Regions from separate parts of the Homo sapiens genome. Here region 2 is linked to region 1. Evidence: fine-mapped QTL for protein levels in blood plasma. A gene starts in region 1. The other region holds a variant in brackets. All regions are shown on one strand. Distances are from middle to middle.

What was found. PIP is the chance, under the fine-mapping model, that this variant and not a neighbour inherited with it causes the effect. Protein levels are from antibody-based Olink assays in UK Biobank. Linkage for the fine-mapping came from a reference panel and not from the study's own genotypes, which makes the PIPs less certain.
Region 2: its variant is fine-mapped to the plasma level of the NTF3 protein (UK Biobank, PIP 0.91).

Annotation. Positions count from the first base shown.
Region 1 is chr12:5,421,622-5,433,499 of GRCh38, forward strand. NTF3 (neurotrophin 3) reads left to right here and starts at 10,487. Exons shown (of 2, transcript NM_001102654.2): 1 at 10,487-10,721. The coding sequence starts at 10,704. RefSeq lists an enhancer at 11,304-11,829.
Region 2 is chr12:5,565,117-5,577,169 of GRCh38, forward strand. It overlaps ANO2 (anoctamin 2), which reads right to left. Exons shown (of 25, transcript NM_001364791.2): 23 at 10,718-10,899; 24 at 442-547. Among named protein-coding and RNA genes, the nearest start is that of NTF3, 140 kb to the left of the region's middle. RefSeq lists an enhancer at 7,106-7,607. The variant T/A (reference allele first, on the strand shown) is at 5,822.

The sequences.
Region 1 (11,878 bases):
GATATTGGTGTCGGTTTGTTTATGAAAAAGTAATTAGCAGGTAGATACAAGAGTTAAGAATTTATCCCAGGACTTACTGATAGCTTTATCACAGGAAAATTAAAATTAAAAGTTCTGGGGGCCAGGCGCAGTGACTTACGCCTATAATCCCAGCACTTTGGGAGGCCAAGGCGGCCAGATCACTTGAGGCCAGGAGTTTGAGACTAGCCTGGCTAACGTGGCAAAACTTCATCTCTACAAAGAAAAAAAAGAAGAAAAATACAAAAAATTAGTTGGGCATGGTGGTGCACGCCTGTAATCCCAGCTACTCGGGAGACTAAGGCACGAGAATATCTTTAATCCAGGAGGTGGAGGGTGCAGTGAGCCAAGATCATGCCACTGCACTCCAATGTGGGCAACACAGTGAGATGAATCCGTCTCAAAAAAAAAAAAGTTATATCAAAGAAACATTTCCTCAGCAAAATAGATCCTTTCATTATCTTTACTACAAAGCAAAGAAGATAAAAAAGCAAGAAAGATGTGGAGAAAAAAGATTTCCTCAGTTGGGAACCTTAAAAGGTCATCTATAATAATATTATTGAAAAAGAGATAGAGTTCATCTATTTAATCCTGTTTCTTCAGAAAAGACCAACCTTATGTCATCAGAAATAAGAAAGTAGTAATTACACTTTTAAAGCTGTCTTTTAATCCCACCTGTGATTAAAATTCTTTTCTAGCTCCTACTAAAACCTTGCCTTCTTCATTTTAAGTTAATTTTCCCTTGTGTGACCAGTTGTTCACAACAGGAACAAAATAAAGGAAATATTAAAATACACTGAAATAAGAAAGAGAGGAAAGAAGAAATGGAAGGGAGGAATTGGAGGGAAATGAAACGCTTCCAGAAGGAAAGCAGATGTGCCTATTTCTTGGGGGCTGTATGAACACAGTAGACAAACAGCAGCATCCTGGGAATCAGGTGAGTGGGCTCCACACTCTCACTGATGAGTCTGATTGTCTGTGTGGTCTCTGGCAGGTGTGCTCATTTTCCTGGGTTACAATTACTTCCTCTGTAAAATGAGGGGATTGACTAGGGGAATCTGAGTTACCCCCCATTGAACGCATGTCATTCATTCATTGCGTCTACCTGGCAGCTAGTCTGTTTTCCAACTTGAGATATGGGGTGTGGACCAGAGTTCACACTGGGCATCTCCTACCAGTTGTGATTTCATTCTCAACTTAACCACAGACTCCTTGCTAACCATGGGCAAAATCATTGTTTTTAGTTCATTAATTTCTTATGTCTGGAAGGTTATCTGCAACTTTCTTGTGCACCTCTTTTATTTTCTTTATTTTTAAGGTATCCATACAGTCAGTTAGGGGAGATGAACATAGGTGGAAAGATAATAGTTGTCATCATTTGTAAAGTTATTCTCTCTACTCACTCCAATGGAACTAATTTCTAGCTTTTAGACTCATTGTTGAAAACTTCTGATGAAAATTATTTTATATAGTGAGAAAAGGACCAATGGAATTTTCTAATCTTTGTTTGGAGGCAGAGGCAGATATGCTGGAGTAGTAAAATGCAAATCCGGGCTGGGCGCAGTGGCTCCCGCCTGTAATCCCAGCACTTTGGGAGTCTGAGGCGGGCGGATCACGAGGTCAGGAGATCGAGACCATCCTGGCTAACACGGTGAAACCCCGTCTCTACTAAAAATACAAAAAATTAGCCGGGCCTGGTGGTGGGCACCTGTAGTCCCAGCTACTGGGGAGGCTGAGGCAGGAGAATGGCGTGAACCCGGGAGGCGGAGCTTGCAGTGAGCAGAGATCGCGCCACTGCACTCCTGCTGGGGCGGCAGAGAGAGACTCCGTCTCAAAAAAAAAAAGCAAATCCGATGCCCATAGATACTATCTTGACAGCAGCTCCAGATTTTAAAACTCATTCAATGGCAGGTTTTGAACGCTGGCTTGCCTTTGGAGTCTGAGGTCTAAATGACAGTTAAGTCTATGTCTGTGTTAAAGGAAGAGACATCTGCATGAGTAGACATTTGTGCCTGGATGGGATTCAAATGAAACATAGGTAACAGAACATCAATTGCCCATAATGTTCTAATCCAACATCCTGTAGTTTCTGAGCAGGCATTTACAGAGTTAATACTTATTAGAGACTCAAGGCTCAACTTTTTTCCTGTATATCTTGATATTGCAAACCCTGGTAGTTTTAATTAGTGGCCTTTTAATCTCTGGAGCAAAGCCAATGGCCTGTTCCCTTGGACAAATTTCTTAACAACCTGGCACTGAGTGGCTTTGTCTGCTTGTGGGAGCTCTCGTACCCAAGGCTGTCATAAAGAGTTACATAGGTTATGTCTGCATGAAGGAACCAGCTGAAGAGATGGGTGGGTGTTGGAATCAGTTCTTCTTCCATGTGCCAAGTGAGTGTCCTGGTGTGAGCTACATTCACCTAGAAAGGTGTGCACACCTAGCGCACACAAAGGCCTATGGTTTCACCTGATCCTATCCTACTTTCAGTCTCCATTTCCTTCCTCGTTTCATGCCCTAGGACAACCTGGGGTCCAGGAGGGCTGGCTCTGTGGGTATTGCAACCTTCCTACTGCAGGTCTTGGCACTGGACTAAGGAACAAGAGACCTGCCTCATGTCTGAGCTCCTCTGTGTAATCTTAGGCAAGTTGCTTATCTCCTCCTATGACTCAGTTTCTTCATATGTATAAAGAGAAAAATGTCACTCTATCAAGGTTAGATGGTGCAGAGGGACAGACAGCTGGGGTTCAAACCTCTGTTTGCCACCCATTCACTACCTATGTATCCTTGGCCAAGTTATATAAGCTTTTTATACCTCGATTTTCTTAATCTGTACAGTGGAGCTAATAATAGCACCTACCTATATATCATGAGTCCTTACAAAAAAGCCTACAAAGTAGGTGCCATTATTATTTCCACTTGACATATTTAATAAATTGAAGCCTAGGAGAAGACACGTAACTTGCCTAAGATCACACAGAGGAGCTCAGACATGAACCAGGTTTCTGCCTCTTAGTCTAGTGCTAAAACCAGTGCATGTGTGCATGTGTGCATGCTTGTATAGCTACAGATATAGATATGTATGCTGGCATGGATAATACAGATATAGGTATAGATATAGATATCTATATGTACGTGTGTGTGTGCTGGTTTATGTATATATATGTATATGTATCTGTATGCACACACATATGTGTTTGCATGTGTGTGTATAGATACCTTTATATATACATATACACACACATGCACATGCTGCTTAAAACAGTGCCTGGCCTATAATGCTAAGATTATTAAGTACCCAATGCTCAGTAAGTACTCAATAAATGTTACCTATTGCTATTATCTGTAGAGAAAGTTTCCACGTGCTAACGTTCCCTCCCTCCTGTGCTGGGAGTTTGTGGTTTGAACAGACGAGAGCCCAGCATGGGCACCCTTGGCTTTTTGAGCATTATTTGCATTCTGAACTGGGGCCTGACGACAGCCTGCTCTCAGGGTGGGGACAGGAGCAGAACCATCAGCGAACTGACTGGTAAATATAGCAAATCATCCGATGGGTTGGCTGCATGGGGTGTGTCTGTCTGTATATGTTTGTGTGTGTTGGAGATAGTAGTGGTATGTAAGCTTATTTTAACTGGAACTCATATTTTCTAGCCCCTCCAAGAACTAATACCTCTTTTTAATGTTTCATGGGAACACTGGACAGAGGGTCTTTAAAGTAAAAACTCAGTGACTCATTCTCTCTCTTCAGTTTTTCTGAACTGCTGAGTAGAGAGAGGAATATTTTCAAGGAAACACGAGGAGATTAGGATGAACCTTCTTTGCCCCTCACCCCACCTCACCTGCTTTGTACCTATCAGTGGAAGGTGAGGGCTGGTCTTGGGGGCAGGAAGATGGATGAAGTGACATTTGCAGGATCCCCTGGGGGCAGGTGTATAGGAGGTGAGTACTCGAGGGGCATTTCATCACGCATTGCTCTTAGGCATGGCTAGCCTGGATGGGTCTCAATTAGGAGTAAGGAGACCTAGGTTCCCATCCTGCTTGGTCTCAAATCCCTGCAAAGGCTGCACCTTGAGTTGCTAGGCATTTACTTCCCAGACATTCCCTGCCCCTTACTACCAGTAAAAGTGGTAAATGCAGGGTGTGGCCAGAATGCTTTTCTAATCCCTAGTGCCACTCCAAGTCCCCCTACAGAGTTAAAGCCTAAAATGACTTCAAACCCAATGGAAGACATTGTGTGATGGAAACAGTTCTAGTTTTCCAGTTGGCTTTCTAGCCATGAATTTGTGTCCTGTGTCCTTTCTCCAGCAGGTCAGGGAAAGTGCAAAAGGCAGGCTTTACTCTACATTGACTGCCCAGTGCTAATGGGTAGGAGCACGTCAGCCATGGGACTCGCAGGGAAACTTGCCACACTTTGAATATAGGAGTCACCTGGCTGTGTCTTGTAACCAGTTGGAGACTTCACTCACAGATGTCACTCTGGGGCTACTGAAAATAGAAGAAATCAGATAATACAAAATTTCTAACTGTATTCACATTAGTGTGTTCTTTGTTTTCTTATTTATATTCACAGTCATGAAAGAAAATGAGGTTAAGTACCTTTACACATGGTAAAACCAAGAAACTGAAAAGTTTAGTTACTTCCCTGAGCTCACAAAACAGTGACAAGACTCTGGATCTCATTTCCCTATCTCCCTGTCTCTAACCCAGGATAATTCTCTGGATTGCATTGCGTGTCAGAATTTCTCTGTTCCTACAGTGTAAATTTCAGCCTTAAGCTCCACCTACAACTTGCCATTTTCGCCCAAAGCATTCAAGATGTTCTTTTGCATCCAGACCCTCCTCCAAATGAAGAAAGCTGCAGTGAAAATGCCACTGAGTTGAGGGGTTGCAAACCAAACCTCCATTCCCATAATTCAATTCTCAGGCCCCAGCCTTCTGCTAAGGCTAACAGATCCACTCCAAAATTTTAAGAGTCCACAGTGATCAAAAGCATCTGTATATTCTGAAACATGCAAATCAACCCTGTTTTTCACATTCATCTCAACATTTGGTGGAGGGCACAAGAGTCAGCTGGCTGCTGAGTGGACGCAGCTTAGCAGATGAATGGAAGGGTCAAATCCCTCTCAAGATTTGTAGAACTGGATCTGAAATATGAAATGCCAGCATACGTGATGAGAGGGATAGTCTATCGAGTGTTTTATCATCCAAAGATGGAATTAATGGCTATGCCATATCTGTGTCAGACCCCGGCAGTAAAACTTTATGGGTTCTTCCCCGTGAAATATTTTGTTTATGTCACGTGGGTCTCATCGGATGTTTTTTTCTCTTTTCTTCACTTCCCCTCCCCACCCTTTTCCCTGCCCTCTTTGTCTCCTGAGACCTATTCCCTTTGGAAATGCATTAGTTACCTAGGAAACCTTAATGTCATTTTTTTATGAGTGGAGTTTGGTGCAGCATAAAGTTAATTTATAGGGTGGTTAGGAATTCATGTCATGACTGGTGAAATAGGAGACTTTATTATGATTTCTACATCCACCTGTGTGGTAGGAATACATACCTTCCCTCTATCATTACGGGTAATTTCTTGAAACGTAATTATGAATATGTATGCCATGTCACAGAATAAGTTGATTCACCGTTGTTCAATGCAATTCATTATATTGTTCAATGTAAGCCCTAGAACATAATTAGCAATAACAACAAACCAATAATATACCAGGCAATCTGTTAAGAGTTGAAGGATATGGTGGAATTTCCTTTTAAATGATGAGGTGGTTCTGGGTGAAAGGCAGAGAATGAATAAGACGAGATTTTGAAATCCTTCAATTCTGTCTTTCATGCACATTGAGGTCCACGTTGGGAAGCTATATAAATTCTAAATATGTCCACTACTTCATTCTGCTGATTTATTTCTGTATTTGTCCAAAGGGGAAAATATACATCCATAAAATTACATTAATGAAATGTGTAGTGGCATACAAATAATAATACACAGGCCATTCCAGAGCCAAGCTTCTTTCTAAAGATAGCTCATTCCCCCAGTGGTGTGACAGTGTTTCCTGTGTAAGGACTAGCAGATCGGGACTGGCATTCACATTGTGCCAGGCACTGTGTTGAATGTTTTAAATTAATTAGTTCCTTTGGTCCTCATATTACTTCTATGAGATTGGTGTTGTCTTCACCAATTGCAGATGGGTTCTAAGAAGTTAAGAAACCTGTACAAAAGCACATGGCTACTGAGTGGAGAAGGTAGAGGGGAACCTGCTTTTCTCAGGCACCAAAATCTACTCTGGCAGTAAATTCTAGGTCGTGGTCTGTCATTATGTTTTTGTTTTTGTTTTTTGTTATTCTGAGTTTCCTCAGTTATTAAATGCAGAGTGGGGGACATAGGGGCTGATAGAAGTTTATCTCTGATGTCTGTATTCTGTGTAGAGAGATCAATGCTAGTCCTTAGAGCAAAGCTGTGCTTTCTTAAAATGACAGAAATTTGGGGGAAGACCTGGTCTTGTTAAATAAACATAAACAAGCCACTCAGTTTCTGTGGACAAGTGCATGCGAATTGAAAGAAAAGAAGAATGTCTCACAGGTGACTCCAGGTCATCTGAGAGGAATTGCTATATGGCTTGACAGCCTGTAGCTCTTGGTGAATAATGCTGTTGCCAGTATATAGAAACGGGTGGGCAGCCAGGAATCTTTCAAGTGCGGAGGCACAAAGGTAGCATGAAGCCGCCTTTCCTGACCCTTAAGCTCCCAGTCCCTGTGCAAACACCTTTTGCATTCACTTTAATTGTTTGAAAAACGAAGACTTCCAGACTCCATCAGCTCTAGCAGCTGTCTGGGTGGATGGGGGTGGGGATGGAGGGGGTAGGGCGAGACCTCCCCACAGCGCCCTCCAGCAGCAGAAGATGCAACTTGCAAATACTTCAGGATCAGTGAGAAGTGTGGTGTTTATTTTAGTAACCTCAAAAGAGAGAAAAAGAAAAGCAGTGGAAGAGGACAGACATTCAAGGCTAGCTACACGATCATGGGGAAAAAAAACAAGCTTGTCTTTGACACGGAAAGGGTCCTTGGAGGCCATTCGGTCCACTTCTCTCATTTCCTGGGTCAACATGTCACAATGAATTAACCACATACTGCCACTGCACAAGACCCCCTCCCTCACCACACGCTGAGCCCCCACCACCAGCATTCAGTCCACTGAGCTCAAACATAGGGAGATAAGTGCTGTTTTCACAAGATAAAGGCAAAATTCAATCCCACGTTGCCGTTTTGTTTCTGTTCAGTGTTCCAACCACAGAGTGGTGCTATTGCAAAAGATAAGGGTAACCAGAAGGCACGCTCTGGAAATTTGCTTTAGGAGAGAGTTTTAAAGGGGGTTTTCAAAAACAAGATCTGATTCCTGCTCTCAGAAATCACTTCCAGGAGTCAGGGCCTTACTCTCAGATGCAGCAGGGAGAAGAAGAAAGTTCAGCAACCTAAAAATACAGTCGACAGATGGGCAGCCAAAGTCATGGCCACGAAGTCAACTTGGAGAGGAGCACCTACCTAGTGAATCCTAAAAGATCTCATCCTGGATGCTTCCTTAACCAGGCCTATGTACAGGGCACAAGCTCGCAGCCAGCTTACTTTCCAGTCCTGATCTTTGCTTTTGCTATCCATACCAATGGTATTTCTATAGAAAAGAAAAATCTCTATTTAGAAACACGGATTTACTTAGAAGTCACAATATTCTAGTTTAAAAATGGCTCTACATAGTAGAGAATGATCTTTTTATTCTGTCTTCTTAAAAATACACCTTTCTAATTCTTTTTTTCTTCCCACCTTCTTCATTCAGCACCTTGCCACTCCCTTGGAAGCCACAACAGCGAGCTGGGGGGTCAGTCCCTAGTCTTAGAGGGAAGAAATCTTTAGGTCTGAAGTCTAAAGAAAAACAGTAAAGGAAAAGGCAGTTGGCGGTGCTCAAGGTAGACTGTCTGAAAGAGGTCTTCTACTCAGAAAAGGGCTAAGGCTCTCCCTTTGGGAAACCAATCCTTCTGAGAAAAAGTGCATCTTTCACCCTCTGCTCCTGTCTGGGTCTCTCCCTCTTCCTCCCTCCTTCCCTCAGTCCCTCCTCCCCTCTCTCCACAAAGACACAGCACATATTTGGCAAGATTAAGGTGTCACCTCTCATATTACAAGGCCTGTTGATTGCAAGCAAAGACAGACCCACCAGCTTAGGACAAAACCCCTTGGAGTTGGAAATAAGACAAACTCTGGGATCCCCGAAAGTCCCGGCAAAATGACGCGGCCAGCCAGTGCAAGGCATCTGCAGAACAAATCCAAGTCCTAAACGCACTGCTTGCTGCCTTTTCTTCTCCTTCCTTTCTTCTGATTTTTCAAGTTTGTTTGCCCCCCTTCCCCTCCTCCCTCCAGACTGCCAGGGACCTGGGAGCTGCCTGCAGATCAGCCCGCACATGTATTTAACCCCTTCCCTGCTGCAGCAGGAGCCAACCACCTCTTTCCTTGCAATCTTCAGGTTCCCAGAGGACCTGGAGCTTGAGAAAAGAACTCTGCCAGTGGATCTGAAACTGGGGCCTGAATCCCTCCTTTGACCAGGGCGAGAAGCTGGAGGAGGGGGGCAAGTGCGGGAAGTGGGGGAGGGCAGGGAGGCGGGCCAGATGAGAGGGAGAAAAGCAGAACCCGACAGAGCACGCCCAATCCAAACCTTCATGGTGCTGTGTGGCTGGGTGGAGGGAACGACTCGGCAGCCTCTTCTGGCCCTGAGGAAGACGTCGATATTTTGGCACGAGGGGAGCCACTGAAGGACTACCCTACCCTTGCGAGGGACCGCAGGAGGTGACGCCCCTGGGCCTCGGTGGGCGCTTCTGGCGGTTTTCGATGTGGCAACCCCCATCAGCCAGGATAATGATGAGGCAGGTACAATCTATCTAGTACGCAGCCCCCAGACTCCCCCCTCCCTTCCCACCTCCCCATCCAACCCCCCAGCTACTCTCTGCGGCCGGTTGGTCCTGAACTGGTGGGTGCAGTTCCGATGTTTAACCAAATTCTCAAGCAATTTCAAGGTATTTGGATTTTTTGAACCTGGGCCCTAACCGAAACGCGGAACGGCTTGCTTATTAGACACCTCGAACGACAGGGCAGGGAGGAAACGGGATACTCGCTGCCCTTCCCAGTCGCGCGTGAGTCAAAAGGTCCTGGCAGGAGATGATGTGAGGAGCGGCTGAAGTGGCAGGGAGGAAGGGATGAGGGGCTTGGAGCGGAGGTCCACCACGCAAGGACTCGGGAAGCGGGCAAGTGGGCAAAACTCTGCTTCCGGGCTCTCGATTTCTCGTTGATCACTAAGTGGTATTTTTCCCCCTTCTCTCGATGGCAAATGGGCGAAATCAAGATGACTTAACTTGGTAAATTTAGAGAGAACGGCTCGGAGCAAGTGAGGTCTAACGGGCAGCTAAAATTATCTCCAAATAAGAGATTTTGACCCCCTCCCCCTATCCTCTCCTCGAATGTATCCACCGGTGGGGAAGTGAGCGTCATTACTTTCGGGGCGCCACGAACAGGTTTGTTTGTTGCTCGCCTTTCCTGCTTCTCGCGCTGTCCCCGCGTGCAGACTGGTGGGTGCTGGGCGAGTGATTAGCTGCAGGGCCCCATCCTAGTTTGGAAGGAAGGGGTTTAGAAGTTGGAGGATGGGTGAAATGGGAGGCTGCGATCCATCTCCCTCTCCCTTCCACACTCAAGCTCCCGCAAACACGCGCGCGCACACACAGCCCCTCCCTAGTCCCTCGGACCACCCGCCCCCACGCCCCTCTACCTTGACCTCCCTTGACCGCCGACACAGCGTCCTGGGTGCGGGTCCCCGGGAGCGGGGAGTTCGCCGGGGAGCGATTGTCCTTGGGCGTGTTCGTGCTGTGGGGTGGGGGGAGGAGTGGCGGGTGGGCTTGGTAGGGGGTGGGGAGAGATCTGGAGCTGGAAGGGTCTAAGGTTTGGAGGAGGAGTTTACGCCTCAGACCTGATCCTCCTGAGGAAAAAGGCAGGAAAAGGCCCTGATGCCTTGTAAAGAAAATCTTGAAAGAAAAAAGATCAAAAAGAAAAATTTCAAGAAAAAGAACCACTAAGAAAGGCTGAAGACACTAACATGTAACCTGTTACGATACATTTAACGTTTCGTTTTTTCCTGGATCTCTAAAAGGGAACTCAAGGGTGGGGGTTACTGAAGAATACTACAGATTTGGAAGTTTTTGTTGCTGTTGTTGTTTGGTTTGGTTTTGTTTTTCAAGAGGGGCCAGGAGAAATGACCCCTTCCCCGCCACGGGTCCCGAAGTGAGGGCGGGGGGGGGGCTCTGGGGCGCGGGCGCGCGCGGCGCGGCGCGGGCCGGCGGGGGAGGGCGGCGCGGCGCGGAAGGGGTTAAGGCGCTGAGCGCGGAGCCATCTGGCCGGGTTGGCTGGTTATAACCGCGCAGATTCTGTTCACGGGACTCAGAGTTGAAGCTCCTCTCCCTTCCGAACAGCTCCGCGCACCGCCCCGCGACGCAGCCCGGCGCAACTACTTTCTTCTCTCTCCTTTCTTTCTTCCTCTCCTTTTTCCCCTGCTGGGTAGTGGCTGCGGCGGGGTGGGGGAGACTTTGAATGACCGAGCTCGCGTCCACCTTTCTCTTCATGTCGACGTCCCTGGAAACGGCCACACGGATGCCATGGTTACTTTTGCCACGGTAAGGGGAGGCGGCGGGCACCTTGGGTGGGCAGGTTTGGGGATGGGGGTCCACGTGGGGAGGGATTTTCCAGTGGACTGGTGCGGGGGGCCCCAGATCCGCATCCCGCCCCACCCCCATCGCGCCGCGCTCACTCACTTTCCCGGGCTTGTGTCTTCCCCAAAGTTTGCGCTGGGATCTGCTCAGGCCGAAGCGCAACCGCAGCCACCCCGCTACACACACACACACACACACACACACACACACACACACACACACACACACAGACACGGACACCCTTCTCCACCTCCTCCCCTCTTGTCCCTCGGCTGCCCAAGAAGCTTCCCTCAATCTGGGAAAGTGATCAGGTTTAAGGGACCTGGATTGGAAAGGGTGGGGGCAGAAGAGGGGAAATGGGGACGACGAAAGAGCAGGAAAGAGATTCAACAGAATCAACCACCCACCACTCCCAACCGACCCGCCTGCTCCTCCGAGAAAGCTCCTAGCGCATCCTATAACAAAAGGGGGTGGCAGACAGAACTCCGGGCGGGGAGGTGCCGCGGCAGCTCCCCTGCACACGCCCTGCACTCTGCCGGCCGCTGAGCCTGATTCTCAGCTCGCCCCAGCACCACTCTGGCCCGGGCGTGGGCTGGGGGGAGGGGACGCGCAGCTCAGGACCCGGAACCTCGCGTTCCAGTTTTGGGAGTTGGGACTCACTGCCACGCGCCGCGTACCTGCGTTGGAGTTCCCCGAAAGGGTTTTTTCAGAAAAGACCTCGCGCCCCGGGCTCCTCTTGGCCAGCGCCCACCCGGTGGCCACCCCACCCTGGGCCTTTGCGCAGATGTTGGAGCTCCGTACGCAGCCCGCACATCTGGGACCCCTCCGGGGAGCGGCGGGCACCCGGGCCCGGCCATCCCAGGGGATCTCCTTGCGGTATCGTCCAGCCTGTTCTCGGACTTTGAGCGGTGGCGTGGGAGGCCGGGAGACCTGGGCACCCGCGCAGCCAGCCAGGTCGGAGTTTAAAGGTCCCACGACGGACCGAACTGTCCCATTGCCCCAGAGCTTTACTCAGTGGTGGATGCTCCTGATGAAATTTGGGACGCTTGGGAGTTGAAGGTTAGGGACAGGAGGGGCGAGGGCCGAGGGCATGGGATGGGGGAGTAGGATTCTGCTTGTTG
Region 2 (12,053 bases), 140 kb after region 1:
GCTAAAACAACACTAACAAAGGAGGGAGCCCAGAGTGCAAGAAGAAAGGTTCCAAACCTGAGCTCTTTCATGGCTGCAGAGATGAGATGGGGCTGTTTGTCTGCCCCAGGCTGGGACTCTGGTTTCAATGGCCCTTTTCCTTTCTTTGCCTTAGGTTTAAACAGGAATCTATCTCCACCCTGCAACTTATTCCACATCTGTCTTGTAACCTTACACTGTGTTTTATCCTCTGTCTGCAAAGTCCACCCATTAAAGAAAGCCCTCTCAAGAGTCCTCCTGCTTCAACCCGGAAAGGAGCCCTCACTTCTGCCTGCCACACATGAAGCTTTCTTATGTCACAGAGTACCACCGGAACCTGGAGGTAGGTGCAAGCAATGAGTGCAGTGTCCTTACTCCTGCAGCCCGGATTCGAATGGGCTATTCCCTATCCCAGCAACTCACCTGGAAGATTATGACAAAAGCCAGACGGGCGGACAGAATAAACCAGTACTGTTTCGAAAACTCATAAGGGTTCGGGGCCCATGGCGGCTCTCGGTAATCCTTAAACCTGCCCAAAGAGAAATGTGGTGTTAAGATCAGGAGCGCATGGAGAAAAGGGTGGTCATTCTCTGGGTGAAACCTCGAGGGCTGGCTGGAGCATCAGGCACGCATGCCCTTGGCATTGACTTGAGAAGCAGGGGGAAGTGGGGGGAATCTATGGCCTAACCAACAAATTTCCAAAAAGGACTAAAGTCCAAGAAAGCCAATGTCAGCCTAGAAATGTCCTAAAAAGACATTTCTACTACCCTCTCCAATAGCTCCCAAAGCTTACTTTGGTGTCAGGCATCAACTCCCAAAGGAGCCCAGGGCATCTGAGGGTAGTCCAGGCCAGTGGGTCCACCTGGGCCTCCCACTAGCCTGTGGCCTCTGTGTGGGTAGGGGAGACCCAGACACCCTGAATGGTGCTCTGCAGCCGGGGGGGTTGGGGAAGATGCAGACACCAGCAGGCAGTCTTGGGCTTCTTCCCCTTCCAGATGCTTCAGGACTACGGCCACTAGAGGGGCTGGCCTTGCTTCATGGCTGCATTCTTGAACCAAAAAGAAGGCTGATCCAGACCAAGCTGGAGGCTGAGTGAATTTGGGATGGGAGGGTCATTAAGCATCACAGTTGATCAGTATTCTGTTTTGCTAATCATCTTCCTGATCTGTCTGCATGGTTTAAACTACAAAATGTTAATGCCTGACGTGATTTCATGCCTCTTTCTCAGACCCATAGAGAAGCCTTGGGTTTTCCCTCACCCTTGCCTTTTCACCCCCATCCCAGAATGATTCATGTGAATACTAGCTCATTTTCTCAGACTCACATTTTTCTAAGCCTGGAAAAATGACAAGGGGCTGGTACCAGAACTATGACCCTTCCTGGAACAGTTTTCTCCATGGAATTCAACAAATCTTTGCTCATCCTGGGCCAGAGAAAGAGGTGGGTGGTGTCAGGCCACCAAGCAATGATAGTGGCTGCCAAGGAAGGCAGGTAGGGACTCTGCCCGGGTCAATCCCTGAGCAAAGGGTTTTTCTGGAAGGTTTCACATTTCATCTTCACGACAACATCCTCAGGCAGGCATTGTTACCCCAGCATAACACAGGAGGAAACTGAGGCTTGGAGAAGTTGAAGTGTGTGGCCAGAGTCTCGTGACCAGTAAAGGTGGAGTCAGGGTAGGAATGCGAGTCTGGCTGAATCTAGGCTTTCTTCCCATTATCACAGGGCATCTTACCAGTGACCGCAGTTTAGGGGACATTCACAAGTAGGTGCTCTTTGGTCCCTTCTCCTGCCATAAATGAATTAGCTGCTCTAAAAGGTCCATGCAAAAGCTAGTTTGTTTTCCATTGTCCAAAGAGAGATGAGAGAAGAAGAGAAGAGAAAAAGAGGAAGAGAAAAAGAGACGCACACACAAAGATAAAAAAGAGCGCAGTGATAGAATCAGCAACAGAAAGACACAACTGAGAGGTGGACACTGGGGACTCGACTAGGGCTTGGCAGGAGGCCAGGAGCTACCCTCTCCCTGCCCGACTCCCCCTCTCCCAACAGCTGATCACAGCTGCCGCAAGCTTGGTTTGACATCCGGATGAAAAGCAAAGCTAACTGCAGCCCAGCAGAGCACCACGGGATTCATCATAACCGTCCTCAGCTGAGGACAGAAACATGGCCAGCTCCAGATTATCCTTGCTGATGGCAGAGAGGGAGAGCGTGGCTAAATGAATAAGAACATCTTGGGGTGGGAAAAACCTCAGACTCACCTATCCTCCCGTCGCCCCCAGACAGGACGCCATGGCAACAGCAATTTATCTCACTCTTCTAGAGACCTCCAGAGAAGGGTGCCACACACACATACACACACTCACATGTGTGCACACACGCACACTCCTTACCATGGGGAAATCCTTCCCTGGGTTCAGCCCAATCCCTACTGCTACAATGAAAGTCCATTTCTCTTGTTCTCTAGCTGCATCTCTGCAGGAACAGCTGCTCACTGACCTCAGTATGCGAGCCACTGCTCACCCCTCTTTTTTCCAGTCTGAAAAGAATCCATAAATAATCTAATTCTGGTTCCACCTCTGCTATTAACTCACCCCAGCTTTTGGAAATGTCACTTTGTCCTCCCTCAGTGTCTAAAACATGTTTTAAGTTTAACAAGCATATCCATCTAATTGAGGATCTGCAGAAAGACTAACACAGAGATCTGTTCAGAAAACTCTACTTGAAAATAGCTCGATGCAGATAGGCTAAGTGTAGCTCCGTTAGGAACTGATGGTAAGCCATGCCACAGAAAAGAACAGTGAGCAATTTAATATTCATCTGTTCACATTTCTTTCCAAAGCTAACTTTATAAAAACTATGACCTACAGTGAGAAATACATTTTACATTCATGCACATACACAGACTGCAATAAAAATTACACAAAACATACTTTGTTGTGTGCAATGCACTAGAATGCACTAGTATTTTCCTATTCTACTCTATCTGATCCTAACCCACCCTATGCTTTTTTTTTTTTTTTTTTTTTGAGATGGAGTCTCGCTCTGTCGCCCAGGCTGGAGTGCAGGAACGTGATCTCGGCTCACTGCAACCTCCGCCTCCCAGGTTCACGCCATTCTCCTGCCTCAGCCTCAGTCCCTCAGCTGGGACTACAGGCGCCCGCCACCACACCCGGCTAATTTTTTGTATTTTTAGTAGAGACGTGGTTTCACTGTGTTAGCCAAGATGGTCTCGATCTCCTGACCTCCTGATCCGCCCGTGCTGGCCAACCCACCCTATTCTTCAAAATGCCGATCATGACCCACTAAAGTGATTTCATAATTCACTAATGAACCATGACTCATAGTTTGAAAAACCTTGATTCTCCTAAGCCCCTACCACCAGGTAAATGACTCGTTGTTTACATTCCAACAGTAAGTTCAGATTTCACAATTGTTTTTAAATTTTACCCTAAGAAGTCGGGCTTATCAAATGTTTCACTGAGTAACTTAGAAGACACTAATTAAACAAAGAGACAATTAGCTTTAAGAATAGAAGTGTTCACCAAAGAGAGTGGCTAATCAACCGAATAATTTCCACCACCGTGATGCTGCGTGTTTTGTTTCTAAACCCAGTGCTTAGCACTGGCGACAGTTCGTGCTTTGGAGGTAGCAGGTGAGGGGTTGAAAGCCCTGTCCAGCACTGTCGTTCTCTGTCCTCTTGCAAGTTACCTAACCTTCTGATGCCCAGCTTTCTCATCTATAAAGTGGGCCTGAACTTTCCATCACAGAGTTGTTCTGAAGACGGAGGGTCAACGCCGAGTGCTCCGCACACTATCTGGCCCATCAGAGGAACCCAATAAATAGCAACTATTCTTTCTCTTTTTACTGGAGGTTACTTATGGAATACACCTTTTCTGTTAAAAGAGGACAGAGCATGTAGATCACGGCTTCCAGTTCCTCCTAGCTTTCCAGAAGGATTTTTGAACATGTAAGCACTAAATGCTGCAAGTTTTAGTGCAAATCAGGAGTCAGCCAAGGGCACAGCCATACAGGGCTTCTCTCAGGACCTCTGTCCAGGTAAATAGCATGAAATGGGCAAGTGCTGGCTGGTGGGTGGAGGCTGCCAGACAGCTCCACAACAGACCCGTTCCCATGGCTTGGGGAGCTCGGGCCTCCCAAAGTCCCACTGAGTTCCCCAGCACTGGGTGAGCCCCCACAACTGGTCAGACTCCTGCAGCTGCCAGCCGTGCCCCCAAAGAGAAGCAGAGTTTTATCCCCAGCATATTATTTTAGGGATGTTCCTGGATCTCACCCTCACCCCTCCAGTCCTCCTTCATTTTCCTTGAGGCTTAAATAACATAAATTTTGAGAGTTCCCCTGAGTTTTCTAATAAGGAGAGACTTCCAATAATGAGACAACTAGCCTGTCTAAAAAGCTAGTCTGCACCTGGAGCAGCTACGCCACTTACTACCTGTAAGAGACCGAGGAAGTCATTCCCCATTTCCGAACCTAGGTCCCTGATCTACAGAGTGGAACTCCCAAAATGTGTATCCCAGCGCTGAGCATAGAGGAGCTGTCTCAATCCCAGCCAGGAGTGAATAATAGATGTGTGTGCGTGTGTGTCTGCTTGTGTGTATACCTTGCATTTTAAAGAAAGACACTGTGAGAATTAAATAAGACAATCTAGGTGAATATGATTTCCGGAGCTTTTGCAGAAAATGAACACAACAGTTTCTTCTGGGATAGAACAGCTGGGGTGGGGGCTGAGAAGTGACACTTTTCTTCTTATATACATACACAATATGTGTCTATGAAATTAATTACTTTTACAATTAAAAAGTTCAAAATGGTAAAAGATGAATGTAATTAATGGCAATACACAGTTGATTCAAGTACATTTTTATAGTAAGCTTTCCTGAGCAAAATTATGTTAATTTGAACAGACTCATATAATAAATGAAAGTGATACAGAAATCAACATTATGTTTTAGCTTTAAAATTATGTTAATATTTTATCTAGATTGTTCTAACTTTGTGAAAACTCACATTGATTGAATTGAGTTTGTACATGACTTAAATAAGATTTCCATTAACTCAAAATATATTTCATTATAAAACAAACCCATGAAACAATACCTTAAAAGTCCTACAAGTTAATACTATGTTAATGCATAGAAAAATGCCTAGAGAACATTCACCCGTAAGTATCACCCTATTACTGTTGGAAGGATGCCTGGGGTTGGGCAGGGGTTAGGGTGGAGGCAAAACAGAGGTGGAGTGGTTACCTGTAATGTTTAGAATTTTTGTAGAACTAGATTAATAAATGACATGTCATTAAACCTGAAGTTTAAAAAAAAAAAGAAAAGAATCTTTGAAGATTTTTTATTCCAAAGTCTCCATTTTTACAGATGAAAAAACTGAGGTACAGAGAGGAGAGAGACTCAGGGCTCAGATGTCCTCATCCTGTCCTCACTTGCAGGGTGACTAGTGACAGTGACATCTGCCACAATTCATCACAACACAAAATCACTGTGGGCAGGGACAGTGCTGAAGTCAACGATCAGTAACAGCTTTTTAATGAGCTTTTGTTATGTAATGAATCAGCTAGTAAATGCATTTCTCAACTCCAAATAGTGGCATGTAAAAAACATTTTAGTAGCCCCAGTGGAAATTAATGTCATGTTAATGCTGAACACAACTACATACAATATTTTCATACCATCTGAGCTACTTAAAACTGCCTCCTGGAATTGACCCTTAACAAAGGAAAACAGTACAGGCAATTAGGAACTAATGAGTAGCATGTCAATCCAGTGGTTGATAAGAA[T/A]CAGGAAATGTGGCACCCAGAAAAGCTAACAGCCTCTGGTTTCGGTGGGAAGCAGATGGGAGGCAGCCATGGGCTGGAAGGGAGCACCCCTCTTCAAAGACTTTTGTCAGGATACGGGGTGTGCAAGCCCTTAGGACCTGCAGGAAAACCTGGCAGAAGCCATCCACAGAAGCTGCTGCTGGATGCTCAACAAACACCTCCAAGCAGACCCGCTGGGTTGACAATGCCCAGGTAGGCTCTTCGAGCTCTGAGACAAGATATCTATGCTCCCTTCCAGCTGAGCTGGGAAGTCAAGCCTACATCCGTCCTCCAGGACGTGGCGGCCCTTCGACCCTGTCAAATGCTGCTAATCATGCCTGCAGATTGATGTCACGGGACTGTTTACGGAGCAGCCCTGCCAGAGCAGTCAGATGACAGAGGCAAGCATCGCTCCAAAATGCTGGGAATGCATCTCAAACGGGCAGCCGGAGACTTGTGCTAACTTTTATTGCTATTTTTAAGATACCTCTATCCCTGGCGAGGCTGGGTTGGAGTCGGAGACCTCAGTTTTATTTGACCACATTTATCTCCAGAGGTCACTGAAAGCTAAGAATAAGAAGGGTCAACAAGTTCCCAACGCTATTTGCCAGAAAATCATGGCAAACCTTGTTTCCCACCACGGAAGCAGTTTTAACTGGCTCTAGGACTAGCTGAAGAGTTATCTCTGTTTCTCAAAATACTTCTCTATCATAGTCCCTTCTCCTCCTCCTCCCCTCTCTCTTTCTTCTCTCTCTCTCTCTCTCTTCCATGTACACATATATGTATACGGAATTATCTCAAGGATCTCAATTCCTGACTTAGAAAGACATCCATAGAGGTTATGCCTCTGCTTTCTAAATCTCCAGAGAATTGAGTGACCCAGTCAAGTTCACACAGCAGGCAGTGGATAGGACTCATATGAGGCAGAGATTTCCATCAACAACCCTTATCAATCTAGGAAACGCAGCCCCCAGAGCACACCTATTTGACATATTATGTCTAGATCACATGCTGACCTTATTTTCTGAACATCTACCTATATTTCACAGTAGGGCATCTCTTTATGTTAAACATAACCCTCAGTGTAACCCAATAGTCTTCACACTGTAGGCAGAGATGTAACACCAATAAAAAGCTTGATCTCATCACTGCCCTCTGAAACCCCTACAGTGGTACCCTGTGGCCCTAAGAGAGACTCCACGCACCTCAACAGGACCAGCATCCTCTCCTTAATATGGAGTTTGTTTTTTTCTTTCAGCCTCCTCTCTCATAGCTTACCCCTCTCACCTGAGCCTGTCTCCCTGGAATACAGTGTTCTCTCGGAACCTCCATCACTACCTGACACACCCCTTGCTGCCCCATGACCTACCACCCTCCCCACCCCACTTACCAGCCAGGCTGACATGGCCACATGAGTGAGGAGTTTCAATGTGATTGTCTCCATGGCCATTCTTGTACTGTTCATTCTTCAGGTTTCATCTCCCTTGAAAATCCCCTAAACACTTAAGTCTGTGTTAGGTGCAGGGCCTCCCTCCTTAGGGATCCCTTAGCTCTCTGCTGTTGCCCTATTGTCAATCATTAAAGCTGTATTTTAATTTTAATTCCTTGTTTACTTATTGTCTGCTCCATCTAGAGTTCTTGAGGGATGCACTATATCTCGCTCCCTATTATACAACCAATGCCAAGCCTTTAGTAGGGTCTCAAAAATATTTGCCTAATGAATCTGTAATCCTCACTGGTACTGAGAGAGGAAGGAAAAATGATGGATGCTTCAAAGTCACTTCAGCTTGATCTTGGGATGATTTATTTTCTGCAAATAAATTTTTTTGGCAGAAATATAGAATGAAAGTGCACTTTCTATGCATGTGCCCACTGATAATTCTGCCACTCGGTGTCAGATTTTTTTCTAAAACGGGCCACAAACAAGCCATGATCTTATCTACTTGCATGGGAATAATGGGGAGACAACTATCAGAGCCTTATAGCTGGCCGGAAAATCCAGTGACTCTGAAGGCAGATACAAGAAAGCTCAATCTGATCCACACATATTCACAATACCTGGTGTCCTGGGCATTGGTTGTTTTGGCTGAGTAGCACCCATTTGCCTTATTTCTCACCACAGTTCCTGGCAATCATACGGAACTTAAAAACACAGTCAACATTGACTGCAGTGGAACTGGGAGGTGGGCAGAGACTGGATTTGGGCAGACTGGATTGAATGAAAACTTGCCTAAGATTAGATCTACCTTCAACTTCCCATAGGGACCATTAAAATTCCTATTGATTTAAGCCTGTTTCACCAGTGATATACCTGAAAAGCATATTCATAGGTGTTAGTGGAAAATCCAATGGTCAAGGGCAAGATCAGAGACCCTTGTGCTCTGAGGACAAGTGCTTCTAGAGCAACTAAAGAAACAGACGATGTGAGCCTGGCTTTCCCACACGACAAGTCACACTGGTGCTGCCTCCCATTGGACATGGAGGTGGAGACCTGCGCTCTTAGAGAGATGTGAGCTTTAGACCCTGCTTTGAGAAGACCTAGATGCTACTGGAAAGGCCTCGAGCTGGTCCAGACCCTCTGTGCTGTGGAACTATGTCGCTGGGGTCTGCAGACCCAAGTCCAGCACCATGGACAGACAGTCTAGCATGTCAGCCATGCAGAGGGGCCCCCAGGCAGTGCATAGCCTGGCAGCAAATCTGCCTGCAATGTGATTTTAGTATGAGAGTCAGACTCTTTATAGGCCCAGATGCGAAAAATCCTGAAACATCTAGGCTAATATAAATTGACACTTATGAGTAAATTTATTCATCAATTCTTGTGTCTGGTTCCTCATTTTTTATCTTTTCTTGGTTGACGACAGTGGAACCCTGAAGTTGTTGTTCCTGGAACTGGAATACCCTTCTATTTAAACCATAGATTGGTACAGTTGTTTAACTCAGCCACCCAGGTTGGGAAAACCAATTGGTGTTCTCTCGTTCATGGTCTCAGACCACAAATCTGAACCTATGTGGCTGTCTTACGAAAGGCTGGCCTTGGGCACCAAGCATGGCAGACATGCCCAGGGTCATCACTGCTGCCAACACAACTGAAAACACAGCTTTTACATCAAATATTATTGGGGATGGTCTAAGAAAGCCCTATGTTGGTCCCACAATACCTTCTCTTAGGTTTTTGTTATTGGTGTAATTAACTATTCTGATTTATATATATGAGGTAGGATCTTTGGTCAAGTGCTTTATTGGGACTATCTTTTAACCAGGGTACAAATGGGTTGAATAAATTATTCCCCTCTGCTCTTATTCTCTTCATTTGCCCTTCTTGGGTAAATAGTGGAGAGTTTTCCATTTCTTGGCTTCAGTGACCCCAGTGCTGATGGCCTTCAATCAGGACTCTAAGTTGGACGTCTCCAGAAGTCCAGCTTAGTGTGTCAAGGAGTTGGGTGAAAATGACCTCTTGGATTTCTTAACATCGTTTTAAATGTAACATGATTGAAATCAAATTCATCATATGTAGCATAAAATTAGACTCTCTCAGCATATTCCCTCTCCCTATCAATGTAACCACATCCCAGTCCTCTGACTTCAGTCCAAGTTTTGGAGATAATCCTAGCTCAGCCACTCTCCTATGTCTACTGTCACCAACTCTGCAATATTTCATGTGAAATAGCTCATCTTCTCCTCTCCTCTTAATTCCTCCCGCCACCCTGGTTTATGCCCAGCACAGTTCATGTCTAAATGATGCAGCAGCCCAGCTGCGCTCCCTGGGTCCTACCAACTCTAGCCCATTGTCCTCACTGAGAACAGATCAATTTCTCTAAACCTTCCCTTTATCCTATCATTCCCTGACACTAAAAAAGTCCAGTGTCTTCCTATTGCATCACATTCTAATTCCCGTTAGATTTCAGGACTTCCCATTATGTACTTTATCCCATCTCTTCAAATTCAACAACCTTTTGGCTTATGCTGGTGTAGGAGTTTCTACATTTACTGTATTTCCTTTATTAATCCCTTTACTGTGTCTCCTTGCTAACCATATCACCTAGCACCAAGTCTTTATCCAACAGCCCACATTTGTCCCCACCCCATGACTTTGCCCATGACGACTCCCCACCTAGAATGTTTTTCTTTTCTCTCTTACAACACCTAGCTGCCCCTCCAGGAGGCCCACCCTTTCCATTCTAGTCCCTCAAGTAATCTCCCTCTCCTCTGAGCACCCACAATGCTCATGGTCCATACATAAGCTCACCAAATAACCTGCTATTTCCTATCTGTTCTGCTTATTTTCTTCTCAACCAGACCATAGCCCCCTTGATGGTGAGGACAAGGCTCTTTGTCTGCTCCATAGTGTCTAGAAAAAGGCAGTCCATAAATATTTTTTGAGTCATCAAAGCTGATTTATAACAATTGATTTATAACAACTGCAGAGAGAGCAGGAGACAGAGGGAAAGGAGAATGATGTACAGTCGTGTGTTGCTTAACGATGGGGATATGTTCTGAGACATGCATCATTAGGTGACTTTGCAAACATCACAGAACGTGCTTATACAAATCTAGATGCTATATAGCCTACGTCACACCTAGGCTATAAAGTATAGTCTATTGCTCCCAGGCTACAAACTTGTACGGCATATTACTGTACTGAATACTGTAGGCAGTAATATAGTGGTAAGTATTTGTGTACCTAAATATATCTAAATACAGAAGATGTATGGTAAAAATATGGTATTATAATCTTACGGGACAATCGCCATATATGTGGTCTGCTGTTGTCCAAAACATCATCATGTTGTGCAGGGTTGTAATTCTAGGTCGTCCCCGTAATTATTTGGATCTATTGCTTCTGGTCCTCTGCTGCCCTTCTCCTGAAGATTACTTTACCTGCAGAACTGAACCTCCTGGTCAAACTGTGAGTTTTCTGGCTGCGTCCCCTCCTTCAGCTGGCTGACGTTGAAAAAGGAGAGGGTGTGGTTGACAAAGCCGTGCAGAGTCCCATTGTGACTGTAGGAGTACTGGTACACCAGGCGGGGGATAAAGTCGGAGGTGATCGCAATGACAAAAGCCTGAGGGACAGAACCATAAGCACTGAGTAGCCAGGATTGATGCTAAAAAGGACTGTCCACTCTTAGGCTCCCCATCAGAAGGAGCTGCTCTGACTGATACAGAAGCTCATGCAGCATGATCAGGTCCCTGAGCTCATGCAGCTGAGTCACATGCCTTTTCCATCTTTGATGTGTATAAGTATAATAAGTCCACCAGACAGTGGCTGTCAAAAGAGCACATGTCAACCACTGCAGCAAAGCATGCTAAGTCAATTTGGACCATTTGGTGCTGGAAGGATTAAACCACTTCTGAGATATCTAACATTGCTGTTGAGCAAGCCAAAACAGGGTGCACGCTTTCCTGAAAAAAATTACCTATAGTGATGAGGGTACTACGTAAGTGTAATGGGCAAGGAAATGGAATGCCCATGTACATCTGCCCCTGAGTAGTACCAGAAAGCCAGAAATACCAAGAATATGATTCCACAGTTTGCTTAATTTGACCATTATCTCTCAACACTTTTTAGCATGTCATGTAATAGAAGTTATTCTTGTATCCATTTTACTTAAGAAAACGGAGACACAGTGGAGAAAGAAACAGGTCCTGCTAGGTGGAGCCACACACACCCAACACAGCATCTGGCATGTCTAAGTGCTCTATAAATGTCCATGGAGCAAACCAAATGACAAATGAATGATTGCGTATTTGAACACAGGGGTACTTTCTGCAAAGAAAGTCTTAAATCTTTTTGGCAGGTGTTTATACTGCATCCTGCACCAACAATTAAAGCCCTTTACCAAAATGTAGTTCAGATATTGTTCTCTAAATGTGTATGTGAATGTGAACGGCCAGAACCATATTTGAGAGTGAATAACATCATAATCATAGCTACAACTTACTGGGCACTTGTTATATGTCCTTTCATCATGCCATTTAATTTCCCAAATGATCTTATTTGGTGGGTACTATTATTATCTCCCATTTGACAGATAAGTAAACAAGTCTTAAAGAGGCCAGGGAAGTAAGACTGCACGTCATTTCGTACTGTAGATGGAAAGTGATTAATACTCAGGGCCTCTGTTCTAACAGACACAACTTCAAAGTAGCGGACTGATCTGTTTTCCAACTTGCACCTTATTTCTAAGCCTCGAGATGTGCACTTCCTACATCACAA